Linked DNA regions of Homo sapiens: all the other regions are linked to region 1. The links come from fine-mapping of genetic effects on gene expression. A gene starts in region 1. Each other region holds a variant in brackets. All regions are shown on one strand. Distances are from middle to middle.

Evidence for each region. PIP is the estimated chance that this variant, and not a neighbour inherited with it, causes the effect. A credible set is the group of variants that fine-mapping cannot tell apart.
Region 2: its variant is the best candidate, but not a certain one, in a credible set for the expression of DLGAP4 in whole blood (INTERVAL, PIP 0.59).
Region 3: its variant is the best candidate, but not a certain one, in a credible set for the expression of DLGAP4 in whole blood (INTERVAL, PIP 0.52).

Annotation. Positions count from the first base shown.
Region 1 is chr20:36,301,652-36,312,307 of GRCh38, forward strand. It overlaps DLGAP4 (DLG associated protein 4), which reads left to right and starts at 4,688. Exons shown (of 13, transcript NM_001365621.2): 1 at 4,688-4,861.
Region 2 is chr20:36,583,828-36,588,827 of GRCh38, forward strand. All of the region lies in intron 2 of TGIF2 (TGFB induced factor homeobox 2), which reads left to right. The region is part of intron 2 of TGIF2-RAB5IF (TGIF2-RAB5IF readthrough); the gene reads left to right. Among named protein-coding and RNA genes, the nearest start is that of TGIF2-RAB5IF, 12 kb to the left of the region's middle. RefSeq lists an enhancer at 1,651-2,640. The variant C/T (reference allele first, on the strand shown) is at 3,121.
Region 3 is chr20:36,649,689-36,660,344 of GRCh38, forward strand. NDRG3 (NDRG family member 3) reads right to left here. Exons shown (of 16, transcript NM_032013.4): 13 at 10,649-10,656; 14 at 6,809-6,844; 15 at 6,672-6,723; 16 at 2,083-4,013. The coding sequence ends at 3,832. Among named protein-coding and RNA genes, the nearest start is that of SLA2, 8.8 kb to the left of the region's middle. The variant C/T (reference allele first, on the strand shown) is at 8,592.

The DNA.
Region 1 (10,656 bases):
CACCACTGTGGGCCACTGGAGCTCCATCTTGCTGGGGACGTTCTGAAGAACAGTGGAAAGCGTGCCTGAGACTGTCTCCCTGAAGGCTCGGAGGCTGCAGCATTTCCTCTGTGACTCTTTTCCCCAAGGGACTGAAGGTTCTGCTGGGGGCCTTACTCTCCTGCATTTCCAAGCCGTCCTGTGCTTGGATGGGACAAGCTCTTGCAACTTCAGAAAATGCCATCAGGCAGAAAAGTGGAGAGACCTGGTGGGTGCTTGCAGCAGACCAGAGTTCAGGAGCTGTCCACCAAGGCTGCAGCAGAATTCAAGATGGGCACCAACAGCATTTGCTTTGAGACGTGGTGTGTCTTTGTCATCATAAAGTGTTTTGGGGGTATAAAACCAGGAATGAGACATAGAATGAGACATAGAAGTCAGGGGTGATTTCCCCAGAATAGGTGACATTCGAGTTGAATTTTGAAAGGTGACTACACAATGGGAGAAGAGGCATTTCAGGTAAAGGCTGAGGTGTGAAACAGCTTGTTGTCTTCAGGAGAAACTGCAGAGCTTGTACCTGAGTCATGGGGTTTGGCCAAGACTGGTTTGGTACAAGCTCAATGTCATCATTAGCTAGATATGGTCATTATCCGGATTTAATCATTATCAAATTACAGACCTGGTTTATATTCCACTTTCACTGCATCTCTGTGGACCTCTCCATCTCTTTTTCTGTCTTTGTCTCTATGAGTTTCTCTCTCTCTTTTTAAAAATACATACTTCAGATACACACAAGTGAGTTAAACTGAGTCCTTGGTTCATGACATGCCTTCAGCATTGGTGCATCAAGTCCTACAGTGTATATAATACAAGATAGTAGAAAGCATAATCTAACATATGCACCTTGAGCCACTGCTCACCCCAAGAACTAGAACAGAATCAGTATCTGACATCTGCCTCTGTGCTGCACCCCATCCCATCCCCCAGCTCTCTGCTGGAGGTCACTAAGATTCTGAATTTTGAGTTTATCCTCCCCTAGTTTCCTTGTTTTTAGTGTTATTACATGCATGCATACCTAATTAATATGTAGTTTGTTTTTACTTGTTTATTAATTTTATGTTAAAAAGTGCCATACTGTATATAGTCTTGTCTTTTCTTTTTAGCTCAATGCTGTTGATGAGCATGTGGCCATGTTGCTGTATGTAATCATGATTTATTTGTTCTGAAGGCTGTATGTGACTATACCATTATTTATTTCTTTTTTTATTCTCCCGTCGATGGACAGTCAGGCTGTCTTCTGGTCTTCTGCTATTGCAAACAGTGCTGTGTGGCTGTTCCTGCGCGTAAATCCTAAAGCTCTGCAAAATGCAGTCTGGGCATCCTCAGCCCGGGCATCACCTGGAAACTTGTTAGAAATGCAGAGTCTGGGGCCCTGCCCTAGCCCCGCCAGAACTGAATCTGCATTTTAACAAGACCCCTGGGGGATTCACTGGCTTATTCACGTTTGAGAAGCACTGGCCGAGTGTACCTCTGCATGGGTTTCTCTTGGGCATACACATCAGGAGTGGAAGTGCTGGGTCGCAGTGGGTGGCCCAGATCACCCTCTCGGCCGCAGCTTCGGAGCTGCCACTGAGCTAGAGCTTCCCCAGCTCTTGGTATTGTCCCACGTTCTCATTGTTGCCAGTCGACTGGGCGTGCAGTGGCATCTCATCATGGTCTTGACTTACATTTCCCCCATGACTAACGAGGTCAGGCACCTCCTCGTATGTTTACTGGCCATATGTTTCCCCTTCTGTGAAACGCCTGTTCCTGTTTTTTGCTCTTTTTTCTTTTAGGCTCACTCTACTCAATCCTGCCTTTGCATATACTGTTCTTTCCATCAGAAATGCCTTCCCCTTTCGCTACCCTGTGTCAGTTCTTCCAGGAAGCCCTCTCTGATTGCTGCTTAGGTTGTGAGCCTCCTCAGCCTCACAGGCAGGAAAACTCGGTGTCATTGTCCCTTCATTCTTCTCCTGAAGTCTCTTCCTCACTGGAGAGACTGTGAACCTATATGGCTTGGTTTGCATAGAGTTAACAATTTTTTCACTCTAGTTGCCATTATTTTCAGGGATTTTCTGAAGTTTTACATTTCAGAAAATCTTAACTGCTAGCTTCTCTTGAAAAAATAAGATATGGCTCCACTGTCTCCTTCCCTAGATGGCAAAATCAGCTAGTGCTGAGTAGGGGCTGCCCCTGCTGGACCATGTGTCACAGTCCCCACAACTCCAGGCTCACAACTTGCTTAAACAACCTGTCCAAGCCCTGTGGGCATTTGGGTTTGTGACCCTTGCCTAAGCGTGCCCAATGCTTGTTCCTCTAAAACTTGCCCTTCCTTCCCCTCCTCCCCATAACCCCATCCTTGTTCCCACTCAGGGCTTTGCATCTCTCCCCTGTGCCATCACACTAGCCTCCTTGACATTCCTTTCTCTAGTCTTGCCTGTTCCAGTCCACTGCCATGTCACACTCCTGCTCAAGAACCAGCAATGGCACCCCCTTGCCTTCCCAGGCACCACCTGACTTTCTACAAAACAAAAAAGTATTACAATAGGAATATTTTATGTCCACAAAAAAGTCTAGAGAACAACATGACAAACACCCATGTGCTCACCACCCCGGCTTAAGACATAAACCACTTCAAGTATATTTAAAGCCCTTACTACAACATTCCCTTCCCTCTCTCCCTCACGGTCACTACTCTCTTGAATTTGCTGTCTATCACTCCCATGCATGCTTTTACACTTGTATTACATATGTATGTGTCGCTAAACAATATATGGTATTGTGTTGTGTGTTTTCAAACTTTATGTATCTGGCATGAAATTATGTTTTCCATCTGCAACTTGCTTTTTCCATCCAACAATATATATTTTTATTTTAAAAATTGTATTGAAGTATAGCATTCATACAAAGAGCACACAAATTGTAAGTGTACAACCCTGGATTTTCACAAACTGAATCAACAGTGTGTTTTTGAGATTCAGCCTCACAATGCATAAGCTTGCAATCACCTATTTTGAGGATTGTGGATCACAGACAGTTTTCCATTGTCTGAATGTGTTGCTATTTATCCAGTTTCCAAATGATGGACATTTAGGCTGTGTCCAGCTTTTCACTATTACAAACGATGCTGCTATGAGCATCCTTGTGCAAGCCTCCCGGGCCCCCATGTGAGGTGTTCTCGAGGGCAAAGCCTGCTCATCTTCAACCTGATCATATATATACCGCCAGGTCGCTGTCCAGCCCCTGGCTCTCGCTGGCTCCCAGCTCATTCGCCAAGATCTTCCCACTGCTCCAGGGAGCCCACTCTCCTCCTTGCTGACACCCTGCCCAAACATGCCACCTCTTTGCCTGCTGCATGCAGGTGTTAAACTCACCTTTCCATCCAGGCTTTACTGAAGCCCTGCCTCTTCCAGGAAGCCCTCTTGGGCAGCGCTGGGCCTCAGGGTGTCATCTCCTCTGAGTGACCTCCTCTCACCCCAGTTGTTAGAGCCAGAGAAGATAGAGACAAACCCAGACCAGACACTGGGGAAAGGGGAATGTGTTCTGGAGAAAGGAAATATGGGTAGACTAGTAGGGAGTGTGAGAAGCTGGGGTACGAAACAGATTGCTCTGGGCCTTGATGGATGAGTAGGAGTTTGTCAGGTAGAGAGGTGGGAGGGCATGGCAGGCACAGGGAAAGGCAGAGGCTGGGCACTGAAACAGTCATCACTGGGTTGGGGATGTGAGCAGGGTGGGTGGGTGGTGGAGGAGACTGGAACAGGGCTGTGAGGAGCCTTGCAGGCCACCCTTTCACGCCATTCTGACCCTTCTGCATTCAGAGGCATTCTCTGGAGATGGCTGTGTGTGGGAGCCAGAGAAGGCAGGCACATTCATTTGACACCTACTGAATGCCAGGCACCGGTAAAGAGCTCATACCCATGATCTCTTTGGTTTCTCACCCAAGTTGGGGATAGAGACTCGTGGTGTCCCCATTTTACAGGTGGAGGAATGGGGCTCAGAGAGGGACAGTCTTTTGTCTGTAACCACAGAGCCAGGAGAGGCAGGGCTGGTACGCAGTTCAGGTTCATCCCACTCCAGAGACTGCATTTAACCCCCGTTCAGCCAGAGGCTAGAAGACACCTGGGAGAGGGTTCTGCGGAAGCAGGTCACCGGGAGGGGGCACCCATTCCTAGAGGCAGGAGCCCCAAGTTCTCGGGGGTGGGGTGGTTCCTGACTGGCGCGGTGTGACCCGGGCCAGTCTCGTTCTCTCTGGGCCTCAGTTTCCCTCCTCCACGGGGCGGCGATGGTCAACACAGGTTCCTGCCGGCCCGCCCCGTAGCCTGGGGTTCCAGGCTCCCGTGCCACCGCGGCCCGCGCTGTGTGACCTTGTTCCAGTAGCCTGCCCTCTCTGGACTGGCGGCCCCGGATTTCCAAGCGCTCTTCCGGATCGCGACAGAGCGGTCGCCCGCTGCGGAGACCCTCCCCCTTCCCCCGGGTTGCGGGGGCGTGGGTGGGGGTGGGGCGCCAGGAACGGCGCGGGCCCCCCCAAGGCCCCCCCAGCCCCGCGCCCGCGGCCCGATCCGCGCCTGGTTTTGGGCGCAGCCGCACGGCCCCCTCCCCCGCGCTCCTCTCCCCTCTCCCCGCCCCCTCCCCGCCGCTCTCGGGGAGCCGGGGCCGCACGGCTCCTCCTCCCGCAGCCGCATCTGGGGCGCCGCGCCGGCCGGAGGAGAGGCATGGGGCGCCCGCGGGCCGGAGCCGGGGCGGGGGCCGGGGCCTAGGCGCGCGGACCTGCGAGCGGACCCGAGAGGCGGCGGCGGCGCAGCGGAACGGCAGAGCGGGCCGGAGGCGGCCGAGGCGCCCGGCGCAGGTGAGGGCGCGGGGGTGGCGCGCGGCGGCTCCTACCCCCTTCCCGGGCCGGCGCGCTCCGTCCCTCGGCTAGACCCCCCGATCTGGTCTCCTCCCCGACAGACCTCCCTGAACCGGGGGACGGCGCTGGCGCAGAAAAGCCCCCTCCCCTGCCAGTTCTGTCTTCCGATCCCGGGTCCGAGGGGCCGGCTGTGCGGCTGGGAAGCGCCTTCTCCGGTTGGGATCGCCCCATCCATGTCTCCCCGGACCCTCAAATCGGGGGCGGCGGCACCGGGGCCCGGAACCCCTGTCCGGGACCGGATCCCCATTCCGGCTCTTTTTCCCGCGGACTCCCCCGTACCCCATATCAAGCGGCTGCCAAAGCCTGGAAGCCCCCTCCTCAGGCCCGCCCCCTAATCCGCAGGGCGGCCTGGGGGTCAGGCGGACCCCTCCCGTGCCCGGCCAACCTTGGCGCTTGGGAGAGCAGGGCTATGCCGGCCCGGGCATTCCTCCATTCAACCCAGCTGCCTCGGATCCCGTCTCGGTAGACCCGGGAGCCGCCGGCTCCCCCCTTCCCGAGCTCTTTCCCTGACCTGGCATCTGGGGAGGGGGCGGGGGCAGCACCCCCCTCCCGCGCTGCATAGCGCCCCCTCCCTGTTTGCGTCCCTGGGAGGGGCTGGGCTGACCCGGGCACCTGGGCTGGGGGGGCACTCACATGGCTACCGGAGGCCCCCACGTGCGGCGCCCCGCGGAGACAGGGGTTCGCGTTCAGAGCTGGTGGCGGATGGACCAGGTGGCCGCGGGGACCAGCTGGGTCCAGATGTGCTGGGCCTGCTGGAAGGGGACAGGTGCTACCTGGACGTGTAATGGCCCTTGGTCTCTTTTGGCCGAACCTGCCGCTCCGATCCCCCTCCATCCCTTCATCCCTCCATCCCTCCATCCCTCCATCCCTCCGGCCCTTCTCCCCTTCTTCCTCCGCTGCCTGTGTTGCAGAGAGGGGCTGTCAGAGACTGTTGATGTGGGAAAAAATGAAATGGGGGAGGGGTTGTGATTGGCAAAGGCCAGTTGTGCCGGGAGCGGTGGGTAGAGGAGGTGCCCTGAGAATGGGAAGCCCTAAGCTTGGAGGGCAGCGCTGATGGGGAGAGGGTTCCTGGCACCCCCACCTGCCTGGAAGTGGAAATGACATAGCGGGAGGGGGCTGCAGTTCCAGCCCCCGGGGGACTGGCCTGCCCTGCCTCTACCTCCACTGCACCTCCTCTCCAAGCCTAGTCCCCAGTAGGGAGGGGGGAGTCCTGGCTCTCTCTGCCTCTGAGCCCTCACTTGTGGGAGGGGGCTGTTTTCCGCCAGCTGGAAGTGGTGGGAATCAGTTGTACAGGACCATCTCCTAGAATGCCTGTTGGAAGAGCCCTGTTTCTGTCCCTCCTTGGTGGCCACCTCTCTCTTGCCTTCTCTGCCAGAGGGCACTGGGCTGCCTGGTCCCAGGGTGGGGCTGCAGAGCTGGTGCCCTGGCCTGGCCGATGGGTGGCTGGAGTGTTGGAGCCACCACCAGGCCCTAGAGCCGGCTGTCGGGGCCAGTCAGCAGCAGACTCCGAGTGTGTTCCCAGCAGCTCCGGAGACGCTGGCTGTGCACGTGGGGCTGGCTAGAGTGCCTGTCTCCCGCTGTGGCAGGGGTAGGCCAGGGATCCTGTGTCCTCCAGGAGCTGGGACAGCGCAACTCAACTTCTGGGAGTGTGCCCGTGTGTGGTGTCCATGGCGACCCCGTACTCACCTGCCAGAGGCCTGGTGAGGCCTGTGCTGGGCGCTGGGGAGTGCAATGGCTGACAGGGTCCCCACCTCCAGGAGCCTCTTTTTTGTTGGGGGAGGCAGCCTGTGTCAGGCATTGGAGACAGTGTCCATGCTGAAGAGAAACTGTGAGCTGGACGGGACCTGATGGCTGGGTTATGTGGAACCCCGGGTGCCAGCCTTGAGATGGAACTGCAGGTCTGAGGGCTGTGCCCCGGGCGTGAAGCTGCCTGGCAGCTGAGTTGGTGTTTTTGAAGGAAGGCTGTGCAGCACTTGGGAACTAGGAGAGAATGTGTGCTTTGGAGCTTTCGGGAGACGCTGACGTATCGGATGTATCGGGGCACCCACTGACATCTCATTAGGTTCTTGTGTGGTTTGTGAGCCACAGGCTTCGTAAATGCCAGCAGTTTCACATGATGGGGAGGCTCTGAGGAACTGTATCCCGGGCACCGTATGTGACAGAAGCAGGTGGTCCCTACCCTCCTATACTTCCGTGATGGGTATTCATTCATTCAGAAAAGCATTAGAAAATCGCATTTGCTAACATCAGTGCATTTGAACACTTTCATTTAAACATTCTGAAATGTGAATTAATAAAATCTTGAATGCAGGGTTTTTTTTTATAGAAAGTACACAGTAGGTACTCAATAAATGTCATGGCTCCCAGGATGAAACCCAACCTCCCCCTCCCCCAACTAGCTACTTTCTAGCCACCTCTTGCTCCCCACCCCCTCCCTCTTTGGCTCGGGTCCCCCTGGCGGGCCTTCAGTTCCTGGAACAGGCCACGTTCCCTCCAGCTTCAGGGTCTTCACACATGCTGGCTCCTCTGCCTGAACATCCCCAGCCCCCTTCTCCCACGTGCCTGTTTCACTACTGCTCATCACCCAAGCTTAAGCATCGCTTCCAAAAGAAAGCCTTCCTCGATGCCCAGGCCAGGCTGTGTCACTGTCACCACCCGCCCAGCCCCGTGGGCCTCTGCTTCATTACCCCGTGCCCATCCTTCTTGGATGTCTCTGGGTGTGGCTGGTGTGGAGAAGGGCAGGGTCGTGCCTGTCTCTTCACGCCATTCCTCTGGTGCTGAGAAGATGTCTTGGCTCAACGTGTGCACTCATCCATTTCTTTTGACTTTTGACGACCTGGTCCATTCTGAGTGGAGGGCTGGGCTCTGGGGAATGGGGGGAGACTTGGCCAGGCCATTGCCAACATGACTGTCCATGTGCGTTCCTGGCCTCCAGCTGGGTCTGCATACCCAGAGGCATTTAGCCAGGATCTGTGGGAGTTACAGGCCTGTAGCCCCTAAAGTCCCAGCAGGTCTGTGGGACCCCAAAGTCTCTACAAGAGGGAGAGGGGCCATGCTGGGGCAGACCTGGCATCTTTAGAGGTGTGCCCCTGGCCAGGCATTTCCCCCTGTGGCCATTCATTTGCTCACATCATCACCTGTTTACCTGTTCAGCCCTTCCTTCACTCGCCAGGTCACTGGCCTGTTCACTCTTCCATTTCCTAGTCCTCTGTCCGTTCTTTGGGCTACTAGTGCTTCCTGAGGCCCACTCAGTGTCCAGCCCTGTGCCAGGCTTGGGGACACAGAGTCAAACCTGTGAGGACCCCACTCTGTAAACTGTAGCCATCCTGCCAGGTGCTTCCTAGTGATGGAGACTGGTGCTGTCCAACCACTGGAAGTGCTTCATAAAGGACATGCGCTGAGCAGGGTTTTGGAGGATTTGGGGATTTGGGTAGATGGAGAATAGTGGGGAAGGACACTGCTGGCTGCAAGAACTGCATGGACAAGCACAGTGGCCCATGCTTGTAATCCCAGCACTTTGGGAGGCCAAGGTGGGAGGATTCCTTGAGTCCAGGAGTTTGAGACTAGTCTAGGCAACATAGTGAGACCCTGTCTCTACAAAAAAAAAAAAAGAAAGAAAGAAAGAAAGAAAGAAAGAAAGAAAGAAAGAAAGAAAGAAAGAAAGAAAGAAAAGAAAAGAATTGCATGGATAAAGGCAGGAAGGCAGCCACATGCTGGTTGAGCTTGGGGATGCTGAGGGTTATGTGTCCTTCTAAGAGGAGGTGGCCACTCCTGAGTGGGCCACAGGGAGGCTGGTGGTGGAGGGAGTAGGGTGCAGTCATGGTCGGCATCCACTCTTCTAGGAGCCCTGTTGCGAATTTGCTGTGTTTCTTTGGATGAGGCGTGTCCCCTCTCTGGGCTCCCTTGATAAAGTGAAGACTTGGACCTGATGATCTCTGAGGGACCTTCTGCCTTCCACTGTCCGAAGTCTGTGATCCTGGGAGCCCTGCATCTTGGGGCATCTGGTGGGCTGTCCTCCCATTTTCTGGACAAGGAAACTGAGCATTAGTTTAGTTTATTAGTAAGGTCTCCAAGGCTGCACAGCTGGTGAGGTGGAGGTGCCAGGGTTTGGATCCAGAGCAAGCCACTGGGTTTGCTGTAGTGGCTTTGAAGGACAGCTTTTGTGTGTAAGCTCCCAGGGCTGGCATCAGCGTGGGGCTGGCGAGGCTTGGCAGTTTCTTCTAACAGATGACCCTGTTGGTTAAGGGAGTGAGGGTGCTGGAGAGCAAACTCACTGGGCATCTTTGAGAAAAGCTGTCACCGAGGAGTCCTGTGTGTTGCACCAAAGACAAGCCCACTTCCTACTTTATCGGAATATGGGGGGATGCTTTGTGACTCACATGACTAGATTTTCTTTCATTGTGACCTATGGGGGAGAGGGTTGCCTGTTCTGTTCCTATATCCCCTCCACAGCGTCTCCTGGCAACTCCTCCAGGCCAGGACTGAAGCCTTTAGGGGTGTGCAGCACGTGCAGTACTCTACAGTTTGCAGAACCCATTTCATCCCCCCATCTTCTAGCCACAGCCAGGGTTAGGAATGAAAAGGGATATTGTCTGCATTTGACAGATGAGGAAACTGAGGCTCAGAGTGGTTGGGTGGCTGCCCAAGGTCACTCGGAGGGTGGGGGGGGTGGACCCTCAGCCGAGGCGCCCCTCTCACTGGGTCCTTGCAGGGAGGGCAGCGTTTAGGGGCTTCTCACTTGCAGATCACACATTATTTCCTGAGCCGAGGAGTGGGGCCCAGGATCCTTCTGTGCTGGGTTTCGCAACGCCGCCTCCTCCCTACCGAGCTGTCTGACGTGGCCTTTTCAAAAACCCAAAATGAATGGAAGCACATTTTGTTTGGAGAATTTTGCTACACCCCTCACCAGGGCTGGTTGCAAAACCAGGCTTGGGGATCCCTACTGATGTTGACGATGATAATAATAATAATAACTGTATCACTGGCTAGCATTTCTTTTCATTCATTCATTCCTTCAACAAAGCATTTTAGACCATCTCCCAGGCCATGTGCACTGCTCAGCCCTCTGTTAGTGAGCACCGATGTCCGGACTCTCTTTCAGCCTCCCTCACACCCTATTATGATTATCACCCCCATTTTATGGAAGAGGAAACTGGGGCACAGAGAGCCAATGCTGCACAGCCGGTGAAGTGGAGGTGCCAGGGTTTGGACGAAAGGCTCCCTCCCCATGACAGAGGCTGGAAGACAGAGGCCGGGCTTTGGACGTAAGTCAGTTAGAGTTTAGAGGCTGGTCTTAGCCCCATGTTCTGGGGATTCTGAAGTTCCCGTTTGTTCCACAGCAAGCGTTGGGTGGGGAGGGAATCAAGTGGAGCAGACCCAGTTCCTGGCTTTGGGGAACCTGAACAGATGCGCTGGGGGCAGAGCTGGGTCTGGTCTGGAGAGCAGCCTTGGGACCACCCTTGGACTCAGTGGCTGCTCTGCTGTCAGTGGCCACACCTCCCCCAGCCCCGCCAGAGGCCCCATCTGAACTGTGAGGTTCACGGGTACCAAGGGATGGGCATCAGAGGAGAACTGTGGCCTCTCTCCCGGCTCCGCTGTGCTTCCCCAGCATGCAATTCTGGTTAAGCCAGCTCATCTCTCAGGCTTCTCACGGGGCACGTGGAGTGATATGGAGTGACCATGACCGGCAGTCCATTGGTGAGGAAGAACAAGATATTTGGCTCCTGGGACCGTTC
Region 2 (5,000 bases), 280 kb after region 1:
CGGAAGTTGGAATGAGCCGAGACTGAGCCACCGCACTCCAGCCGGGGCAACAGACTGAGACTCTGTCTCAAAAAAGAAAAGAAAAAAAAACTAGCTGGGCGTGGTTGCAGGTACCTGTAATCCCAGCTACTTAGGAGGCTGAGGCAAGAGAATTGCTTGAACTCGGGAGGCAGAGGTTGTAGTGAGTTGTGATTGCACCATTGCACTCCTGCCTGGGCAACAGAGCAAGAGTCCATCTCAAAAAAAAAGAAAAAAAAATTCAATGGCTTTTGCCAGCCTAATGACATCACCGGCCCGTGTCTACATCTTGAACCTCAACCCTGGTCCCCTACATTCCCACTACATTGATCCACCTCCCCAGACCATTTTCCTCCCACCCCTGACCAGGAGGCTCCCAGTCCCTAAAGGAGCTGTATGCTCTCACAGCAGATAGATGAGGTCACAGCACTGGGACACTAAACTGTAATTGCTTTTAGACTGCACCAAATTCTAGAGGTGTGGAGAGCACTGACCTAGTGTTCACAGTTACAGCCCTAGTGTAGCATAGTGCTTGGTATCTGGTAGGTAGGTGCTCAGTAAATAATGTTGAAGTGGCAGAAAAGGGCTATAAAGTGGTGGAAGGGTCAACAGGCAGGACCTCAGAAGTAAGGAAATGTAATGGCTCCTAATCATGAAAAATAGCCTAAAGCCTGGGAGCATCATTTTTTCCTGTATTTATTAATTAATTTTTTTTTTTTTTGAGACGGAGTCACTCTGTCGCCCAGGCTGGAGTGCAGTGGCGCAATCTCAGTTCACTGCAACTTCTGCTGCCCAGGTTCAAGCAATTCTCCTGCCCCAGCCTCCCGAGTAGCTGGGATTACAGGCACCTGCCACCAGGCTGAGCTAATTTTTGTAGTTTTAGTAAAGACAGGGTTTCACCATTTTGGCCAGGCTGGTCTCGAACTCCCGACCTCAGGTGGTCTCACTTCAGCCTCCCAAAGTGCTGGGATTACAGGCGTGAGCCACTGCTCCCGGCCTCCTGTATTTAATTTTTTAAATTTCATTTTCCATTAAGGACATTTAAGAATATCTATAAAAGCTGAACGCAGGCTGGGCACAGTGGCTCACACCTATAATTCCAGCACTTTGGGAGGCCGAGGCAAACGGATCACCTGGGGTTGGAAGTTTGGGACCAGCCTGACCAACACGGAGAAACCCCATCTCTACTAAAAAATAGACAATTAGCTGGGCATGGTGGCGCATGCTTGTACTCCCAGCTACTCAGGAGGCTGAGGCAGGAGAATCACTTTTGAACCTAGGAGGTGGAGATTGCCGTGAGCGAGATCCTGCCATTGCACTCCAGCCTGGGCAACAAGAGTGAAACTCCATCTCAAAAAAAAAGAGAAAAAAGCTAGGCACAGTGTCTCACGCCTGTAATCCCAACACTTTGGGAGGCTGAAGCGGGTGTATCACTTGAGGCCAGGAGTTGTAGACCAGTCTGACCAATGTGGTGAAACCCCGTCTCTACTAAAAATAGTCCCAGCTATTCGGGAGGCTGAAGCAGGAGAATCACTTGAACCCGGGGGTGGTGGAGGTTGCAGGGAGCCAAGATCATGCCACTGCACTCCAGCCTGGTCTACAGAACGGGACTCTGTCTTTAAAAAAAAAAAAAAAAAAAAAAACTCCACAAAAGTAAGAGAATATAATAATCAACCACCAGCACCAGTCACTCGGCTTGAACAAGTATCAACATTTTGCCAAGCTTGTTTTATCTCTCCCTGGGGACATCTCTTTTGATTGTCTCCTTTAACCCTCCCAGGAGCGATTCATTAGCAAGTCAATGACTCAACTAACTGGTTTGCTGGTACTTGCCTGGGGCTAGGCAGTTGGGAGGGTTAGGGAAAAAAGTAGTTTGTAAAGGATTTTCACAGGTCCCTTCGACATCCTCTAAGCCCAATTTATTGGTTGGACTAGATCTGTGGCTACCTGGCAGGGTTCTGGGCCCCAATCCTTTACTGTAACAATGGTTGGGGATATACCACGTGCCAGGCCCGGGACTCTGTGCTGGGTATACAGTGGTAGAATGGGTACCTTCCCATTACTTCCTGGCTGTCAGGACTCCTTTCATATGCAGTTTCCTGAGGGAAGCCTTCCCAAAGCCCATACCGGGGCAGGGGCAGCAGTCCCCCTGGCGAGGGCTGTTGGGTGAGAAAGGAACCTGGTGCAGAGGCTGTAGTGGTCAGCTGTGGGGGAGGAGTGTCCTGGCCTAGCCCCCAGGGCAGCCAGGGATGTAGGAGCTGCTCTCCTCTGGCTCCAAAGCTAGCTGCCCTCTGATTCCTCCCACAGGCAACTTCTATTTTTCCCCATCTCAAGGCCTTTCATCTGTGTGTATGTTTTTTGAACTTCTGTGTAAGCTTTTTGGCTTAAATAAAGGGCTTGGCCTGCAAGGACAAGTAACCAGTAGGCTAAACCATTGGTTCCTAAGCCTGGGCGGCCAGACTTTCTGGGTAGCTGGTCTGAAAACACATTGCCAACTCCACCCCTCACCCCCACTAGATCAATAAAGCAGAGGGGGAAATCACTAACAGTTTTTAAAAATCTCTCCCAGGCTGGGTGTGGTTGCTCTGCCTGTAATCCCAGCACTTTGGGAGGCCAAAGCGGGCAGATCACTTGAGGTCAGGAGTTTGAGACCAGCCTGGCCAACACGGTGAAACCCTGTCTCTATTAAAAATACAAAAATTACTTGGGCATGTTGTCGTGTGCCTGTAATCCCAGGTACTTGGGAGGCTGAGGCAGGAGAACTGCTTGAACCCGAGAGGCGGAGGTTGCAGTGAACTGAGATCGCACCATTGCACTCCAGCCTGGGCAAAGAAGTGAGACTCCATTTCCCCCCCCCCAAAAAAAAAAATCTCCCCTAAGGTGATTCTAATACAGAGAGCTGCCTTCAAGAGCACCTGGATATGGTAGTCTCAGTGTGAATGGTGGTACCATGATGTTTGGGAAAGGCGCCTCAGTGCCTTTGCTTCCTTGACACAAAAATGAGAGGGTTTCTGCCTGCATTCATTAGCTGCTGCTCCCAGCATCACAGCCTTTGTCAGCCTCCTGGTGTTCCTCCCACCCCCATTTGCCACAGTGATTCCT[C/T]CCTTGTTCCTCAGCAGCCTCTCAGATAGAGCCCTGTTTTATGGTAGAGACCGGCTTTCCGGTTCCCAGCCTGTGTTTTGCCATATACATCACAGAGTTCACTTTGACCTTCTTCCTACCATCTCCCCAAGGACCTTGAGTGGAGACAAGTCACAGGTTCTTTTCCTGACTTAGGCACAGGCTGGGCAGCTGGAAGGGCTGCAGAAGGGGCACTGGCAGCCACTCAGTCCCCCCGCGTTGCCTTGCCCAGCCCCTCAGCTGTGCATTTTTCTGGGCTAAGAAGACAAAACAGACAGATGCTAGGCTGCCAAGTGATCTGGACAGGACAGTCTTGTGGGGGAGTGTGTGGAGGGGTGTTTTTCTGTTCTTGAACCCTCAGCCAAAGTGGGAAGTGCCTTTAGGGGCTAGGTGCCCACACAGATGCTGAGAAATGCCCAGACTGCCCTCCATGAGGCTGCCTGCTCAACAACACTCCTTACTTTGCTTGACCCAGGTCACTGTGACCTGCCCATTTTTCCCCTGCATCCAGGGCTGAGGTGGAGAGGGGCAGTGTACTCCTGCAGCACAGGTATGGGAGGAGGCAGCTGTGGGAGGGAGGGAGAGAAGGACACAGGCACTGCTCCTGTGCAAGGAAGACTCCCTCTCACTCTTCAGCTGGCAGTGGGGTGGCTGCCCAGAACCAGGCTGTCTGGATCAAACCCAGCTTTTGCACTTGTGACCTTCAACAAGTTTCTGAACCTCTCCGATCTGTTTCTTCAAGGGAGATCATCATATAACCTGTGTGATAGGCTGAGATTGAATGAATAATTAGATATGAAATGTGAATAGTGCCTGAGGCCAGGCGTGGTGGCTCACACCTGTAATCCCAACACTTTGGGAGGCTGAGGTGAGCAGATCATTTGAGTTCAGGAGTTTGACACCAGCCTGGCCAACATGGGGAAACCCCATCTCTACAAAAAATACCAAAAAAAAAGTACCTGGGCATGGTGGCACATGTCTGTGGTCCCAGCTACTCGGGAGGCTGAGGTGGGAGAATTACCTAAACCCAGGAGGTCAAGGCTACAGTGAACTGTGATTCCACCACTGCACTCCAGCCTGGGTGACAGAGTGAGACCCTGTCTTTAAAAAAAAAAAAAAAAAGCACAGCAAAGCAGTGGAGGCCCTAAAGCCAGGAGGCCTGGTTTTAAATCCCAGCTCTGCACTGGGAAGATGTGTGACTGGACAAGAGCTTTCTTCTCATTGAGCTCAGTTCTCTCTAGTACTTTGGGGACACTGCCCTCTACCCTCCAGGCTTGTATGCAGATTAAACATAATGCAAGTGAGGTGGCTGGCATGATACTGCTATCAAAGGTGTTTGAGTAAGTTTGTTCCCTTCCTTCATCCCACCTAGCTGTTGAGCCCTTCCTTCTTTTTTTTTTTTTTTTTTTTTTTTTTTTGAGATGGAGTCTTGCTTTGTCGCGCAGGCTGGAGTGCAGTGGCGCAATTTTGACTCACCGCAACCTCTGCCTTGTGGGTTCAAGCAGTTCTCTCAGCCTCCTGAGTAGCTGAGACTACAGGCACATGCCACCACACCCTGCTAAGCCCTTCCTCTCTTTAGGGTTTTCCCACAGCTCTAGTCAGGATTCAGCTCAACCAGCGTCCACTGAAGCCTGTTGGTATGTGTGTGCATTGGAGCACCATAGTGGTGAAGAGGGGCAAATAAGGACCCCAGAGCCAGGGCCCCTCCTGGCTGGAATGGAATGGGAGAGAAGGGCCACAGAAGCTTCTGGCTCTGCCCTGCCTATGAGCCTTCCAGCCCGACAGCCTGGTGCTGTCTTTGAGTCACCTGTGGAATAGATGCAGCTGCAGTTAGCTAGGTTAGGAGAAAAGACAGGACCAGA
Region 3 (10,656 bases), 350 kb after region 1:
GTGGGAGGATGGCTTGAGCCCAGAAGTTTGAGGCTGCAGTGAGCTATGATTACACCACTGCCATCCAGCTTGGGTGACAAAGTGAGACACTGTTTCAAAAAAAAAAAAAAAAAAAAAAAAAAAAAGGGCCCAGCGCAGGGGCTCATGCCTGTAATTCCAGCACTTTGGGAGGCTGAGGCGGGCAGATCACTTGAAGTCAGGAGTTCCAGACCAGCCTGGTCAACATGGCGAAACCCCATCTCTACTAAAAATTAGCTGGGCGTGGTGGCACATGCTTGTAGTCCCAGCTACTCAGAAGGCTGAGACAGGAGAATTGCTTGAACCTAGGAGGAGGAGGTTGCAGTGAGTGGATATCATGCCACTGCACTCCAGCCTGGGCGACAGAGCGAGACTCCATCTCAGAACAAAACATAACCAAACAAAAAACAAAAAAAAAGGCAACTGAGGCCATCAGATCAGTTCCTTCCCATGTCAGCATTCTGTGGAGCATTGGCCTGCATTGTAAGGCTTCAGCCTGGTAATCTTTATCTGTTCATATGCATTTGTTTCAACTCCTCTGCCAGAATGGGCATGTCTTTTTTTTTTTTTTTTTTGAGACAAGAGTCTTTCTCTGTCGCACAGGCTGGAGTGCAGTAGCGCTATCTCCGCTCTCTGCTAGCTCCGCCTCCCGGGTTCACGCCATTCTCCTGCCTCAGCCTCCTGAGTAGCTAGGACTACAGGTGCCCACCACCACGCCCGACGAATTTTTTGTATTTTTAGTAGAGATGGGGTTTCACTGTGTTAGCCAGGATGGTCTCGATCTCCCGACCTCGTGATCTGCCCACCTCAGCCTCCCAAAGTGCTGGGATTACTGGCGTGAGCCACCGCGCCCGGTGGTTCATGTCATTTTTTACGAGTGCCTGTCACAGATGTAGCAATCCACATGCACTTTTGCTGGCACTTGCCCCGGGTTACTGAAAACTCATCTGAGATGGTGGTCTTCTGAAATTATTCTTTTTTTTTTTTTTTTTTTTTTTTTCTGGAGACGGAGTTTTACTCTTGTTACCCAGGCTGGAATGCAATGGTGCAATCTTGGCTCACTGCAATCTCCACCTCCTGGGTTCAAGCGATTCTCCTGTCTCAGCCTCCCGAGTAGCGGGATTACAGGTGCATGCCACCACGCTCGACTAATTTTTTTTTTTTTTTTTGTATTTTTAGTAGAGACAGGGTTTTATCACATTGGTCAGGCTGGTCTCGAACTCCTGACCTCCAGTGATCCGCCCGCCTTGGCCTCCCAAAGTGCTGGGATTACAGGCGTGAGCCACCATGCCTGGCTTTTTTTTTTTTTTTTTTTTTTGAGACAGTCTCGCTCTGTAGCCCAGGCTAGAGTGCAGTGGTGTGATCTTGGCTCACTGCAAACTCCACCTCCCGGGTTCAAGTGATTCTCCTGCCTCAGCCTTCCAAGTAGCTGGGATTACAGGCACATACCACCATGCCTGGCTAATTTTTGTATTTTTAGTAGAAACAGGGTTTCACCATGTTGGCCAGGCTGGTCTTTAACTCCTGACCTCAGGTGATCCGCCCACCTTGGCCTCCCAGAGTGTTGGGATTACAGGCGTGAGCCACTGCACTCGGTCTGAAATTATTCTTGATGGGTACAAATATAGCCATTTCTGGAGAAACACAAGCTGGTCTCTTAGAAGACAAGTGGTTGCAGATTATTAAAATGAGAGGTGGAACCCAGCAATCCCACACAGGTGGTGGAGCTGTGACGTGGACCACCTTCTCAAGACCTCAGCTTCTCCTCCTCCATCACAAACAACACTGTCAGGCTTCTCACGATTTTTGGCTTGAGGGAAATACAGACACATCAGATAGAATTCTGCATAATTCCCTGGGATTTGATCCTGGCTGGACTTATTGGCTGCATGACCTTGGGCAAATGATTTATCATCAGTCTTCATTTCCTCCTATAAATGGACAGTGTCGCTTGGTGGATAAGCAATCACATGTGAAAATGGCAACACAGAACCAGCATACAGCAACTCGGTCCTGCCCTGAACCCCAGTGAATGGCTTGAAAGAAATAACACCAGCAATCAGGTAACAATGAGACATATGCAGCTTTATTTAATAATCTGTAAAAAGTCATACTCTGGCAGAGTGATGCATTCCTTATCTCAGCAGAAAGCAAACAGTCTGTCTGAAAAGCCCCTTCCCAAGATTTGGAACTGTGTAACCCTGAGCTTACATCTCAATGCTCCCAAGAGCTGGGCTCTTGCTATGTGGTAGTTGGTCTCCACAATTCTCTCACCCTCCAGCAATACTCTCTGTCTGGCTGTGACTCCCTCACCTAACAGTAGACATGAGGCTGAAAACAACTTTACCTGGACAGGGCTACCCCTACAGATTGGCCCTTTCTCTCCTACAAAAGGGAGTTCATAGGATTAACAATCTTTCTAATGGCTGGGAGCAATGACTCATGCCTGTAATCCCAGCACTTTGGGAGGCTGAGGCAGGTGGATCACCTGAGGTCAGGAGTTTGAGACCAGCCTGGCCAACATGGTGAAACTCCATCTCTACTAAAAATACATAACTTAGCTGGGTATGGTGGCAGGTGCCTGTAGTCTCAGCTACTCGGGAGGCTGAGGCAGGAGAATCGCTTGAACCCAGGGGGCAGAGGTTGCAGTGAGCCAAGTTTGCGCCATTGCACTCCAGCCTGGGTAACAGCGAGACTCTGTCTCAAAAAAAAAAAAAGACTCTGAGAAATGGGTTCTGTATCAATTTAATTTGGCTTCCATTACATCTACTGAAATCAAGGCTATACTTGTTAAACATGATACTGTGTTAATGGCTGTTCCTCTCCCCCCACCCATTTCTCCCCCATCTACATGCTTTTTAGGCCAAACCTCTCCCCTTTCTGGGAACTGAGGAATGGAGACACACTCTCTGTCACAGACCTAAGAGGCACTTCTTGTGGATATGTGGATGTCTGGTATCAGATACTGCAGCGACAGCAGTTTTGCTCTTCAGAGCAGAGGCCTGGCATTTTGTTTCCACCTTCCTGTGCTAAGAGAGTCCAGTAATTAAACCACATTCACTCCTTGGAAAAAACTCTATGTTGTATCAGAACCTCAGCGATGGTTCATGGGCTTCCAGCAGAATATATTCCTCCCTTTTATTTATAGAAGAGTATACAGAAATTCATTTGGACAGAAGGAGCCTCTCTATGTAACAGGCACCCTTCTGCTACTGGTCACAATCAATCAATGGTCCAGACGGCAATTATGATTTTCCACATTCCTCAAAGCTGCTCTCTCCTGAAATCACTTTGCAAATTTTGTTGACCAATTTGCAAACAAAAGAGAATGCAGTGGCCTACCCAACCTAGAAATCTGTTCTGCCTAATTCCCTTAAAAACACCATTGAGAATGCAAAATAAGTCCCTTTTTTGTTTTTTGCAGAAGCACTACAAGAAAGCGTGTCTAAAACCACAGAACTATGCACACACAAACACAGACACGCGTGCTCGCACACACAGAGTCGGGATCAAAGAATCTTATCTGATACATAGTTGGGGGAGCACGGGAAAAAGCTGGCAAGAGAGGATATGGAGAGATCTGATCAGCTAAAGATGTTGGAATGTTACAGTATGGCATGGAAGTGGTTCTTGGGCTATACAAAAAAGGGGGTGGGCAGGCAGAGAGAATGATAAATCCAGGCTACTAGAGAGAGGTTCAGTGGCCATGCATGAGTTAAAGATAGTAGAGGCCAGTTTACTGGATGAAATGTTATATTATGGAGTGGTCATTTGAAGGATGGACTTGCAATGGTCCAGGGGAGGAGCATCTGCTTAGCAGGACACCTCCATGGTCTGGTGTCTGTCCAGGACATCAGGGGACTCACAGGATTCTTGAGTTCCATCTGACTGATTGCTGGTGACAGACCGGCTGAAGGGACTTTCTCCAGAGCCGAGGCTACTCGAGGTTGAGTGGGTTCGTGATCGGGCGAGCCGAGTCATGCTGGCAGATGGTACTGTAACAGAGAACCAAGGGGACTAGAAGATGAAGCCCCGGTTAAGCCCAGCTAACCTAGGAGTCTCATCAAAGTCTTTATGTTTAGCTTTTCCGACTCATTTACCATGACACCCAGGACAAGATATAGCCATCCCCATTTTGTATCATTTGCTCTAGGTGAGTGGCGATATGTGAGGCCACTTTAATCCTTTAGATCTGGTTGGAATCTCAGCTGATTGTAGTCACCGCAGAACAAGGGGAAACCCTAAATCCAGAGTATAGCCTCTTAACTATGCCCACACCATTCAGACAGTGACAGAATGGAGGCTTTGGGAACCCAAACAGGTAACCAAAACCTACAGTGCATGCAAGACTAAACCAAAAGAAAAGAAAGACACACACACAAGTATGAAGGTGTTTCACAAACACAGTGCAAGCCCGATACAACGAGACTACCATCCGTGTCCACAGGCTACCTTGCTACCAGGGAGGAGATTTGTAGGATGGTGCAGGTGAAGGGGAGGGCAGATTGGCTTGGAGCTGACCTCAACACAGGGATGAGGTACAGGTTGCCAGGGACAGAGAAGCAGGTGTTTAACTCAGACTCCTGTTCTGCCACTGCTTGACTCTAAGGTCCTTCCAGCTTGGCTGGGACTGGGCCTTACCTGGCATAGCCTCCCTGCCTATCGTCCTGGGCAGCAGCCACTCCCCTAGCTGTCATTTCAATGCTGGGGTCAAAAGGTGCTATCATCTGCAGAGTTCTCTGGGCACAGGCTCTGACCCTCCTATTTAGAGCCAAGGCTGCCCTTGGATTCCTGTGTCTGGAGGTTAATTCAAGGATCAGTAGGTGGTGGTGGAAGATGGGCCCTGCCTATCAAGTTTCAGCTGCTGCTGTGACCCTGGATTTAGGATGACAAGAGGAGGCCTGCCCCTTACAACCAGATCCTTTCCTCCTCCTGGGGGACCAGGGCTGGACCTGTAGGCTAAATCTCTTGGGGCGTACTGAGCCACGTTCTATCGGGCTCTCACTGCATAGGAAGACCGCGGACATGCTGCAGGCAGCCAGTGCAGCCAGGAGAGACTGGAAGGCGGGGCAGGGCCAGCACAGAGGAAGGTACCTGACTCGGTGCTCAGGTGACTGAGCTGCACATACGGGACTGGAAGCAGGATGGACACAGGAAAAGGCAGGTTAGTGACCCCAGAGTGCCAAGTGGCAACCTCAGCTGCCTGGTAGACACTGACAGAATACTCTAAGCCAGGGATAAAATTTTATTTTAAGGTCCCAGAGAGGAGGTGAGGCTGACAGATACTTCAATAACATCTCAAATGTTACTTTCCTCAACTAGACAAAGGCAATTGTTTTCCCCTCTGCTATAAACAGTCATCTTGCTTTGGATCAGAAGTGGGCTGGAAGATCAGCTATTTCATAGGAAAAGGATAAGAATGGACTAGGAGAGGGCCTCCTGCTCCTCCCAGTGAGCCACAGGGCTGTGGGTGTGGGCTCGGTTGGTAGCGGCTCACAGGCAAGGATGACACAGCCACTTGAGACAAGACATACATGGTCTGCCTGGCAGGTACAGGGCTGCACCCAGGGCCCAGCTGCCCAGAGCAGCTGACCAGACAGCTCGCCAATGACCATTATCCACACTAATACCAAAGACAGGAGAAAAATCACCCTACTGGGTAAAGAGCTCTGTACCTGGGTGAAAGAGTTTTTCTAAAAACTCCAAGAAAGGAGCAAGTGTAGATAATTCTGTGACCATGAAAAAGCTCAGAGGTCTTACAATACAAGAGACCAGGACAATGGCATATGATATGGACACACCCTTGGACTTGCTCTAAAACACTCTCCAAGTTCGTCCCCTGGGGTGGAGGAGACTTTACCAAGGATACTGCCCTTTTCTCCTGGAGTCTCCATTTCATTTCTCTAGGTCAGGAGTTATTAACCAGCTGAGTTTAAATGCAAATCATAATTTCAGATTCACACCTAGGACAGCCTAAGCTGCAGGGGTTCAAAATGTGGGCTCTGGAGTCAGACTGTCAGGGTTTGAATCATGGCCCTGCAGCTGAATTTTTACCCTTGGCAATGTGCTTAGTCTCTTTGAGCCTCAGTTTCTTCTTCTATAAATTGGCACTAATAACAGAATGACTTCTTAGATTAAGAATATATAGGTTGGGCACGGTAGCTCACGCATGTAATCCCAGCACTTTGGGAGGCCAAGGCAGGCAGATCATGAGGTCAAGAGATCAAGACCATCCTGGCCAACATGGTGAATCTCCGTCTCTCCTAAAAATACAAAAATTATTCGGGTGTGGTGGCACATGCCTGTAGTCCCAGCTACTTGGGAGGCTGAGGCAGGAGAATCGCTTGAACCCAGGAGGCGGAGGTTGCAGTGAGCTGAGATCACACCACTGCACTCCAGCCTGGCAACAGAGTGAGACTCTGTCTCAAAAAAAAAAAAAAAAAAAAAAGAATATATATTGCCTGATGAAAGTAAGTGCTGAGTGTTAGCTTACAAATACGGACAAATGAATGTTCCATAAACATTTCAGTTTCTACTTTGCTTAAGGCTAGCTGCCACAGAGGTTATATCTCAAGAATTGTGGGCTCCCAGATGTGAAACTGGCTCCCAATATTCCTAAATCGTTGCTAGATAGAAAGTTGTGTACTACTCACTGTAGCCCATTCCCTGCAAAAAGTACTTGAAGGCCTCGGTGAGCTTCCCAGGCTGGGGGGATAAAACAAGAGGGCATTAATTTTTGCATAGACAGAGAAGCAGAATTAAATGGGTGTTTAAAAAAAATTCTCCTTACCTGAACTACCTGGGGCAGTCCCCCACAGTCCGCCATCTAGAAAAGGAAAAATATGCAAGTCAGCTGGGACTTACCCTTAAGAGAATTGCTCTGAACACCCCAAGTCCTTTCAAACAGAACAAGATTGAATTCTAGGTTTTAATGTTTAACTGCAAGTTTGCATCTCAATGCACCTACGTACAAACATTTATAACCTTGGATGAAAATCTGAAATAATTATTACATACTTATTTATCAATAAGACTGAAGCCCTGACTTTCAGGCCCATGGTGGGAATTTTCTGTTGAGGTGATAGTGAAGTTAACCACTACTCTCAACCATGAAAACCACCTGAAGAAGGTTCCTTTCAGAGCCCTCGAACAGTGTGACCCTAACTTCTCTGTGCATCAAGCTTTCCAAGTCCCATTTCAACTCTACATTATCTTTCCTCCGTGAGTAAGGGCACTCTGCCATCAGGAGCTGATACTGATTCAGCCGGCTTGCTCAGTCAGCCACTTTCCTCTAATAGCTGGGTTTGGTAATGCTGCTTTTCACTTCATAAACATTTACAGCTGGTTATTCTCACGTGTGCAAGGATTTCTAGGGTATGGCTTCATTAGTGTGCCCTGGAATTACCTGAAGGACTTGTTAAAACTCAGATTCTTGGATTCCTATCCCAGAGATTCTGATTTGATAGGTTTGGGGTATGGTTCGAGATTGTGCATTTCTGGCCGCGCGCAGTGGCTCACACCTGTAATCCCAGCACCTTGGGAGGCCGAGGTCGGGGGGATCACCTGAGGTCAGGAGTTCCAGACCAGCCTGGTCAGCATGGTGAAACTCCATCTCTACTAAAAATACAAAAATTAGCCGGGCGTGGTGGCACACACCTGTAGTCCCAGCTACTCTGGAGGCTGACACAGAAGAATCACTTGAACTCATGAGGCAGAGGTTGCAGTGAGCCAAGATCATGCCACTGCACTCCAACCTGGGCGACAGAGTCCGTCTCCAGGAAAAAAAAAAAAAAAGGAACGTACATTTCTAATAAGATCTCAGGTGATTTGAATCTACTGTCCACAGAAAAGCGTTTTTAGGGCATGTTGGCCATAGGCCTGCTCTCTTTCTTCCAGCTGTTACACACTCTGGACTCAGATGGTATTCTTCAGGCTGACTGGCTTTTTTTAAAAAGGAACATGAACCCCATGGTTTCAATTCACTGGCATTAAAACTTATTATGAAGGGGGACTACTACTGAGGAGAATGCCACAGAAGACGCAGAAGTTTGAGATTAACAAGGGAGAGGCCCCTGAAAATTCTAAGCATAAGATTATAAACAAACATTTAACAAATATACAAAAAAACCAAACCAGCACAGACTGTATTTTCATGAAGTTTAGGAGCTGAAACCTGATTAGAACACAGAACAGTTCCCATATGCAGAGAGAATACTGGGAGAAACTATTTCCAAGATGGGTACCTATCAAATGGTTTGAGAATCAGTTCAATCTGCCATAGGAGTTATCCACTCTATTCTATGGTGTTGTAGATGGGCATTTTTGCGAAAAATAACTATGTCTATGGTTATTGTAGGGTTTAGTTTTATGCTTTTGTATATTGATTCAAACCTGAAATGAGAAACTAATTTGAAACTATAAACTTAAAAAAAAATTTTTTTTGAGATAAAGTCTCACTCTCGTTGCCCAGGCTGGAGTGCAATGGTGCAATCTTGGCTCACTGCAACCTCCACCTCCCAGGTTCAAGCGATTCTCCTGCCTCAGTCTCTGGAGTAGCTGGGATTACAGGTGCC[C/T]AGCATCATGCCCGGCTAATTTTTGTATTTTTAGTAGAGATGAGGTTTCATCATGTTGGGCAGGCTGGTCTTGAACTCCTGGCCTCAGCTTCCCAAAGTGCTGGGATTACAGGTGTGAGCCACCATGCCCAGCCCCTCCCCAAAATTTTTAGACCAGCCCATCAATTGCCTGGAGGGCAGAACATTTTGAATGTGGTCACCTCAGAGCATTAACTTCACATTAGATTTCTAGGAACTACAGGCGTTTGTGGTAACAGCACTTCCCTTTCAAACACACTTCAAAGGGAAAAGGAAGATGGCAGAGGTCTTTCAGACTGAAAATGTAGCAGTAAGCAACATACGATCGGCATTGAAATCTACAGTAGTCCAAGTTCCCAAGTTCAAACTAGAAGGTCAGCTACCTCAACACTTTAGTAGAGGCTCTAGGAAAAGCTAAGATGAAACAATGACAGGCAGAAACTCTTGCCTCGGTTATACTCAAAAGGGGAGACACTTGATACTAACTCTAGATATTTAGCATAAGAGTTGGTCTGTATTTGCCCTAAGAGAAAGAAAATGCATCCACCCTCATCATAAGAATTGTTACTAAAAGCTTCCTTACCAATACAGCAGGATTTTGCATATACAGAATTTACATCCATTATCTTCTCACAATATTAAATCATGTTGACGAAGTTTTTTTTTTTTTTTTTTTAGAGACAGGGTTTCACTCTGTCACCTAGGTTGGAGTGCAGCATCAGGAGCACAAATCCTCGAATTCCTGGGCTCAAGGAATCCTCTCGCCTCAGCTTCCTGAGTAGCTGGGGCTACGGATGCGCACCACCAAGCCCAGCTAATTTTCTTATTGTTTTTGTAGAGACAGAGTCTCACTATGTTTCCCAGACTGCTCTCGAACTCCTGGCCTCCCACCTCGGCCTTCCAAAGTGCTGGGATTATAGGTGTGAGCCACTGCACCCAGCCAAAGTTTTTAGTTACATGGGAAAGGCTATGTCATAAAGTTGAGGAAAACAGATACAGGGTTGTAAATACTCTTTGACAGGGTCTCATTCTGTCACCCAGGCTGGTCTCAAACTCCTGGACTCAAGTGATCCGCCCAACTCAGCCTCCCAAAGTGTTGGGATTATAGGTGTGAGCCACCGTGCCCAGCCCGTCTCTAATTTTAATGATGTAAAAATGTATAGGAAAAAGACAGCAGTATTTTACCAGAGGTTTGGGTGGTAGGATTACAAATAATTTAAATTTATTTTATTCCATATGCTTTCCTCTTTTTTGCAGTGTTTTACAATGAGAACATATTCAGGAAAAAAGCTTTATTTTATTTATTTGTTTATTTATTTTTGAGATGGAGTCTTGCTCTGTCGCCCAGGCTAGAGTGCAGTGGTGCAATCTCAGCTCACTGCAACCTCCGCCTCCCAGGTTCAAGTGATTCTCCTGCCTCAGCCTCCCAGGTAGCTGGGACTACAGGCGTGGGCCACCATGCCCAGTTAATTTTTGTATTTTTAGTAGAGACGGGGTTTCACCATATTGGCTAGGCTGGTCTCAAATTCCTGACCTCGTGATCCAACTGCCTTAGCCTCCCAAAGTGCTGAGATTACAGGTGTGAGCCACCGCACCTGGCCAAAAGGATTATTTTAAAAAGAGAATGAAGGCTGGGTGCGGTGGCTCACACCTGTAATCCCAGCACTTTGGGAGGCCAAGGTGGGTGGATCACGAGGACAGGAGATCGAGACCACCCTGGCTAACACGGTGAAACCCCGTCTCTACTAAAAATACGAAAAATTAGCCGGGCATGGTGGCACGTGCCTGTAGTCCCAGCTACTCAGGAGGCTGACGCAGGAGAATTGCTTGAACCCGAGAGGTGGAGGTTGCAGTGAGCTGAGATGGCGCCACTGCACTCCAGCCAGGGCAACACAGCGGGACTCTGTCTCAAAGAAAAAGAAGAGAATGAGATAACCAAAGAGAGGGAAGCTTTGCTCCTTTCTAAGCAATTATTCCAGAAAATATGATTAATCTGAAGCACATATAAGGGTTGGAAGTGAGGGAAGAAGGCACATTACCTTTAGCA